2 separate regions of the Homo sapiens genome follow, and region 1 is linked to region 2. The links come from fine-mapping of genetic effects on gene expression. A gene starts in region 2. The other region holds a variant in brackets. All regions are shown on one strand. Distances are from middle to middle.

Region 1 (2,903 bases), 160 kb before region 2:
GAACCAGGCTTGAACTAGGTATTATGGGAAGAAAAATCTATAAGTAGAGAAGCACAGGACTGCCCTGAGCTGCAGTGTGGAGGGGGGAACGTGGGCAGCATGGGCAGGGAGCCCCAAGGGGTCATCTGAGCAGAAGGGAGGGCTTGGGCAGGCAGCGTGTGGGAGTGGGGTCTGGAGAGACAGGGTGAGGCTGGGGGCAAAGTCCTCTGGCTATCCAGCTAACAACTTACATTTTACCGTAAAGGCAGGGGTGGATTCATGTTTCATGTTTTTTGAAGCTTATAAATAAAATTTAGGTTGGGGGTGCAATGAGCTATGATCACTCCACTGTACTATAGCCTGGGCCACAGAGTGAGACCCCCCTCTGAAAATAAAATAAAATAAAAAATAAAAATAAAAGAATTTGAGGGGAGGCGGTAGGCACTCTAAGAAAAAGAATGTGAAATTATGAAAACAAAGTTGCCAGGGCTCCCAGCATATGCAAATGATGGGCCATGAAGCTCAAGCTTCGTTAGCCTTGCATGTTCTTAAGCAGGGGGGATTCTCTGGGCTGCCATGTTGGAAAGAACTGTTTGGTTCCGGGATGAATGCAGATGTTTTGGAGTGTTCAGGGTGGTACCAGATGAGTTTGCAAGCTTAATGAGGACTATGTTGGTTTCCTTGGGCTGGTTTAACGATTACCACAAGCTGGGTGGCTTAAGACAATAGAAACGTCTTCCCTTCCAGTTTAGAAGTCTGAAATCGAGGTGTCAAAGATTTGGTTCCTCCTGGAGGATGTGAGGGAGAAACTGGGCTCTGCTTTTCTCCTGGGTTCTGGTGGTTGCAGGAGTCCATGGCATTCGTGGCTTAGAGACACATCACTCCAATTTTGGCTTCCATCTTCACATTGCCTTCTTCTCTGTGTTCTCTCCTCTTCCCATAAGGATACCAGTCATTAGATGTGGGGCTCACCTTAAACCCAGGATGATTTCTTCCTGATATCTTTAATTACATTGGCAATAATCCTATTCCCAAATAAGGTGATAGTAACAGGTACCAGCAGGTTAGGACTTAGACATACCTTTTTTGGAGACACTATTCAACCCCCTACAGGGTCTAAACAAAATATCGCACAGTGTGGCATTTATGTCTATACTGTGGACCTGCGATCTCTTGTTGCTGTGCCCTTATATCTAATTCGGATCTTGACTGTGAGACCTTGGAGGGGTCACTGACCTCCCTGCGCCTCAGTTTGTTCAATAAAAAAGAGGTGGTTCTTACATTTTGCTTTACATAAAAATTCGAAAATCTGGCCAGGTGCGGTGGCTCATGCCTGTAATCCCAGCACTTTGGGAGGCTGAGACGGGTGGGTCATTTGAGGTCAGGAATTTGAGACCAGCCTGGTCAACATGGTGAAACCCCGTTTCTACTAAAAATACAAAAATTAGCCAGGTGTGGTGGCAGGTGCCTGTAATCCCAGCTGCTTGGGAGGCTGAGGCAGGAGAATCACTTGAACCTGGGAGGCAGAGGTTGCAGTGAGCTGAGATTGCACCACTGCACTCCAGCCTGGGCAAGAAAGTGAGACCCTTTCTCAGAAAAAAAAAAAAAA[AT/T]TGAAATTCTTATTGTTCAGGCCATGCCTCATATCAGTTAAACCAGAATCTCTCAGGGGTGGGATTTAGGAATTAATAGTGTTTGAAAAACTATCCAGGTGATTCCAGCGCACACTGAGTTTGAGACTAGTGCTCAACTTTAAATGTACAGGTGGATCAGTGTGAAAATGCAGATTCCGATTTGGTCCGGGACGGGACCTGAGACTCTGCATTTCTAACCGTCTATCTCCGGGGTGATGCTGAGGCAGCTGGTCTGAGGCCCACACCAAGTCTTAGGGCCTGGATGACCTTGCACAGCCTCCTGAGCTCTTACATCATCCTATTCACTCTCCTGCAGTGGCCAGGCTGCAGGCTGTGATGGAGTGAGGTAGAAACAACATCTTAACAGGAAATGGCTTTTGCTGAGAGACAGTTCAGTTTGGAGGTGGTTTATATATTGGGAAAGTCCATATGCTGCACATAAATGGGATCTAATGAATCTAATGACATTATTTAGAAACAGTTTCACTAAATGAAAGGCAGCAGCCAGACCTGTGAGCTTTCTCCTGCACCCTGGAATGCTTCTGTTTAGTATAACAAGTGTTAATACGGCCTCCCAAGACCTCTGAAAAGGGACAGCGCCCTTTCAGCAAACCAAAACGCCAGGAAAACAGTGAGAAGGATGTAAACAGTGTTCAACTTCAGATTTTAATCTGTCAAGTGCTGGTACTAGAAAAACAAACCCCTCCTCAGCCTGGCCCTGAGGTCTGGGCTGTGTCAACTTTGTCACTGAGCATTTGCACTCCACACAGGGTGGGTGGGGCAGGAAGGAGAAGTGTGTACAAAGACCAAGGCTTTCTGTGCTGAGTCCACTTGACCACCCTGGGATGCGTACTTGCTCAGAGACTGGGCTTGGATGCTCAGTGGCGATTCTCACCTATAGCTGCCTGTTAGAATCATCTGGGGAGGTTCAGATGGTACCTGTGTCTAGGCTTTCACCAGATCAATTAAAAATAATTTTTCTTGGGGTGGGGCTTGGGCAAGGGTATGTTTTCAATTTCTTCAGGTAATTCCAGTGTATACCAAGGACACTTCGCAGGTTCTGTGGCTATCCAGCTTGTAGTAGACTGTATAATTTGTTCGGCACATGTTTACTATGAGTCCTTACTATGAAAGTGTCAATTTGGGCTGCTGTAACAAAATACTATAAACTGGTGACTTGTAAACAGAAAGTTATTTCTCACAGTTCTGGGGCTGGGAAGTCCCAGATCAAGCTGTTGGCAGATCAGTGTCTGGCAAGGGCTCTGGTTCCCAGATGGCATCTTTTCCCTGTGT
Region 2 (2,903 bases):
AGGAATTCGAGGTAGAAGGTGGCAGAGAGACTTCTGTTCCTGGGGGCCGAGCTGTTGTGCTGATACCGTCCTCTTGGCGTCTGCCCTAGTGGGGACCCTTGATTTTAACTTGAAGTTCCTGGACTGGGTCTAACCTTAGCATGTGTGCCTGAGTGATGGACTTGGTATTTACACCAGCCACGCTGATAAGTGCACATGTGTTTTTAATGTTTTGGCTTTCCACACCACAAACACACAGATGTGCTGTCGCCCGGGCTAGGACTTGAGTAGGGTTTTTCTATTTAAATATATATTATATATTTAAAAAAGTGTCCTCCCAGAGCTAATACCGTTGCTAGCAGCTCTTCCTGCCGCCACACCGGGCAAAGTCCACCCACTGCCCCAGTGTTGAGGGCCACCATGGGCGGCCCCACCTGGAGAGGTGCTGCTCACAGCAAACAGCTCCAACTGCGCCTTCGCCTCGCCTTCCAGGGAGCCCAGCCAGGCCCACTGGGTATTTACAAGCAGACCTCCCTCGCTTCAGCCTTCCTGAACCCCTGTTAGTTGGGAAACCACCTGTCTGCACCGCAGCTAGAGAACCGAGGAGAGGAGCCGCTAGTCTAAAGGGCTGTTGGTTGAAATTAGGAAGCAGTGTAAAGAAAAAGAAAAAAAAAGTTTGGGAGGCCAAGGCAGGAGCATCACCTGAGGTCAGGAGTTCGAGACCAGCCTGGCTAACATGGTGAAACCCCGTCTCTACTAAAAATACAAAAAATTAGCGGGGGCATGGTGGCACGCGGCTGTAATCCCAGCTACTCGGGAGGCTGAGGCAGGAGAATCGCTTGAACCCGGGAGGCGGAGGTTGCAGTCAGCGGAGATAGCGCCATTGCACTCCAGCTTAGGCAACAAGAGCGAAACTGTCTCAAAAAAAAAAAGTCTTCATAATTTCATGGGTTTGCAAGTATGATCCAGGCTCCCCGCTTCTCTGCAAGCCAATGCGAGTTAATTACAGCGTCCGCCCTGGTCTCTCTCCACCCCACGCCGTGATCCATTCCCCTTCTTTTTCTCCCCTTGTCTCTTTCCTCCTCCCCCTTTTATTTATGTATTTTTGGTTTTGTTTTTTAAGGGGTGTTGAGCCGCGTCTGGTTCTAGTAAACCGAACCCGCTCGCGAGGGAGGCGATTGGCTCCCGCGCCGGTGACGGACGTGGTAACGAGTGCGGCTCGCCCCGCCGGGAGCTGATTGGCTGCGCGGGGCGGCTCCGAGGGCTCGGCCGTAGGAGCCCCGCGCACTCCAGCCCTGCAGCCTCCGGAGTCAGTGCCGCGCGCCCGCCGCCCCGCGCCTTCCTGCTCGCCGCACCTCCGGGAGCCGGGGCGCACCCAGCCCGCAGCGCCGCCTCCCCGCCCGCGCCGCCTCCGACCGCAGGCCGAGGGCCGCCACTGGCCGGGGGGACCGGGCAGCAGCTTGCGGCCGCGGAGCCGGGCAACGCTGGGGACTGCGCCTTTTGTCCCCGGAGGTCCCTGGAAGTTTGCGGCAGGACGCGCGCGGGGAGGCGGCGGAGGCAGCCCCGACGTCGCGGAGAACAGGGCGCAGAGCCGGCATGGGCATCGGGCGCAGCGAGGGGGGCCGCCGCGGGGCAGCCCTGGGCGTGCTGCTGGCGCTGGGCGCGGCGCTTCTGGCCGTGGGCTCGGCCAGCGAGTACGACTACGTGAGCTTCCAGTCGGACATCGGCCCGTACCAGAGCGGGCGCTTCTACACCAAGCCACCTCAGTGCGTGGACATCCCCGCGGACCTGCGGCTGTGCCACAACGTGGGCTACAAGAAGATGGTGCTGCCCAACCTGCTGGAGCACGAGACCATGGCGGAGGTGAAGCAGCAGGCCAGCAGCTGGGTGCCCCTGCTCAACAAGAACTGCCACGCCGGCACCCAGGTCTTCCTCTGCTCGCTCTTCGCGCCCGTCTGCCTGGACCGGCCCATCTACCCGTGTCGCTGGCTCTGCGAGGCCGTGCGCGACTCGTGCGAGCCGGTCATGCAGTTCTTCGGCTTCTACTGGCCCGAGATGCTTAAGTGTGACAAGTTCCCCGAGGGGGACGTCTGCATCGCCATGACGCCGCCCAATGCCACCGAAGCCTCCAAGCCCCAAGGTAAGGCTGCCTCCTCCCACGTGCGCGAGCCGCCCCCTCCATCCCCCGGCCGGAGCTGCAGGAGAACCCGCGCCACCCTACGCCCGCCCGCCGCTGGGTCCCGGTGCTGGGGACTGAGGGCCCGAGGTTGCTCGCATGCTGTGCACGTGATTCCTAAGCGCGTCTGGTCTGTCCCAGGTATCGCTCAGCGCCCCTCGCGACCCAGGTGCACGGCGGGGCTGGCCCGGGAGCGGCAGCTCTGCGCCTTGGCCTCGCAGGGACTCGCTGTGGTCCCCGGAGCCGCTCTTCCTGGGATCCAACTTCGCCTTTCCCATACCTGAAACAAAGCCTTGCGCTTTAAATAACAGGGGAGCTTCCCTCTCCTCTAGGAGGACTCCGAGTCCCTATCGAAGTTTTTAACCTCTGAGACGGGAGGAAAAAACAAAAACCCAAAGCGTAGAAAGTTCAGAAAGGCCGAGAGAATGCTTGGAGCAGCTTTTGTTTATTTTCATAGGTTCGACAAAGATTTAAAAAATAAAACCAAGCCCTTTCCTTCACTGGTCATTCAGTCAAGTAGCCTTGGGATTGCTGCAAAACTGGCTGAGAAAGTTTAGGAACCGTGGGGACTTCTGTTTCTCCACCCCTTCCAGGTACCAGCTCTGCCCTCGGAGGGCTGGGGGTGGAAAGTCTTTTCTCCCTCCCTCTAGCGTACCCCCTGCTTTTCTCATTTACACAAATCCTCAGCTCATTAGAAAGATAAAAATGTAATTAGCTCATTGTTCATCTCCTCCCGGGGAGAGCAGCT

Direction of the effects. Positions count from the first base shown, and alleles are read on the strand shown. Sizes are in standard deviations (SD) of each study's normalised expression.
For the expression in prefrontal cortex of the gene that starts at base 1,262 in region 2, T is the high allele of the variant in region 1 and AT is the other (small effect, 0.27 SD a copy in BrainSeq).

Evidence for each region. PIP is the estimated chance that this variant, and not a neighbour inherited with it, causes the effect. A credible set is the group of variants that fine-mapping cannot tell apart.
Region 1: its variant is the best candidate, but not a certain one, in a credible set for the expression of SFRP1 in prefrontal cortex (BrainSeq, PIP 0.75).

The regions. Positions count from the first base shown.
Region 1 is chr8:41,466,157-41,469,059 of GRCh38, reverse strand. No RefSeq gene overlaps it. Among named protein-coding and RNA genes, the nearest start is that of GOLGA7, 23 kb to the left of the region's middle. The variant AT/T (reference allele first, on the strand shown) is at 1,589.
Region 2 is chr8:41,307,832-41,310,734 of GRCh38, reverse strand. It overlaps SFRP1 (secreted frizzled related protein 1), which reads left to right and starts at 1,262. Exons shown (of 3, transcript NM_003012.5): 1 at 1,262-2,119. The coding sequence starts at 1,576. RefSeq lists enhancers at 1,542-2,312, 2,313-2,903.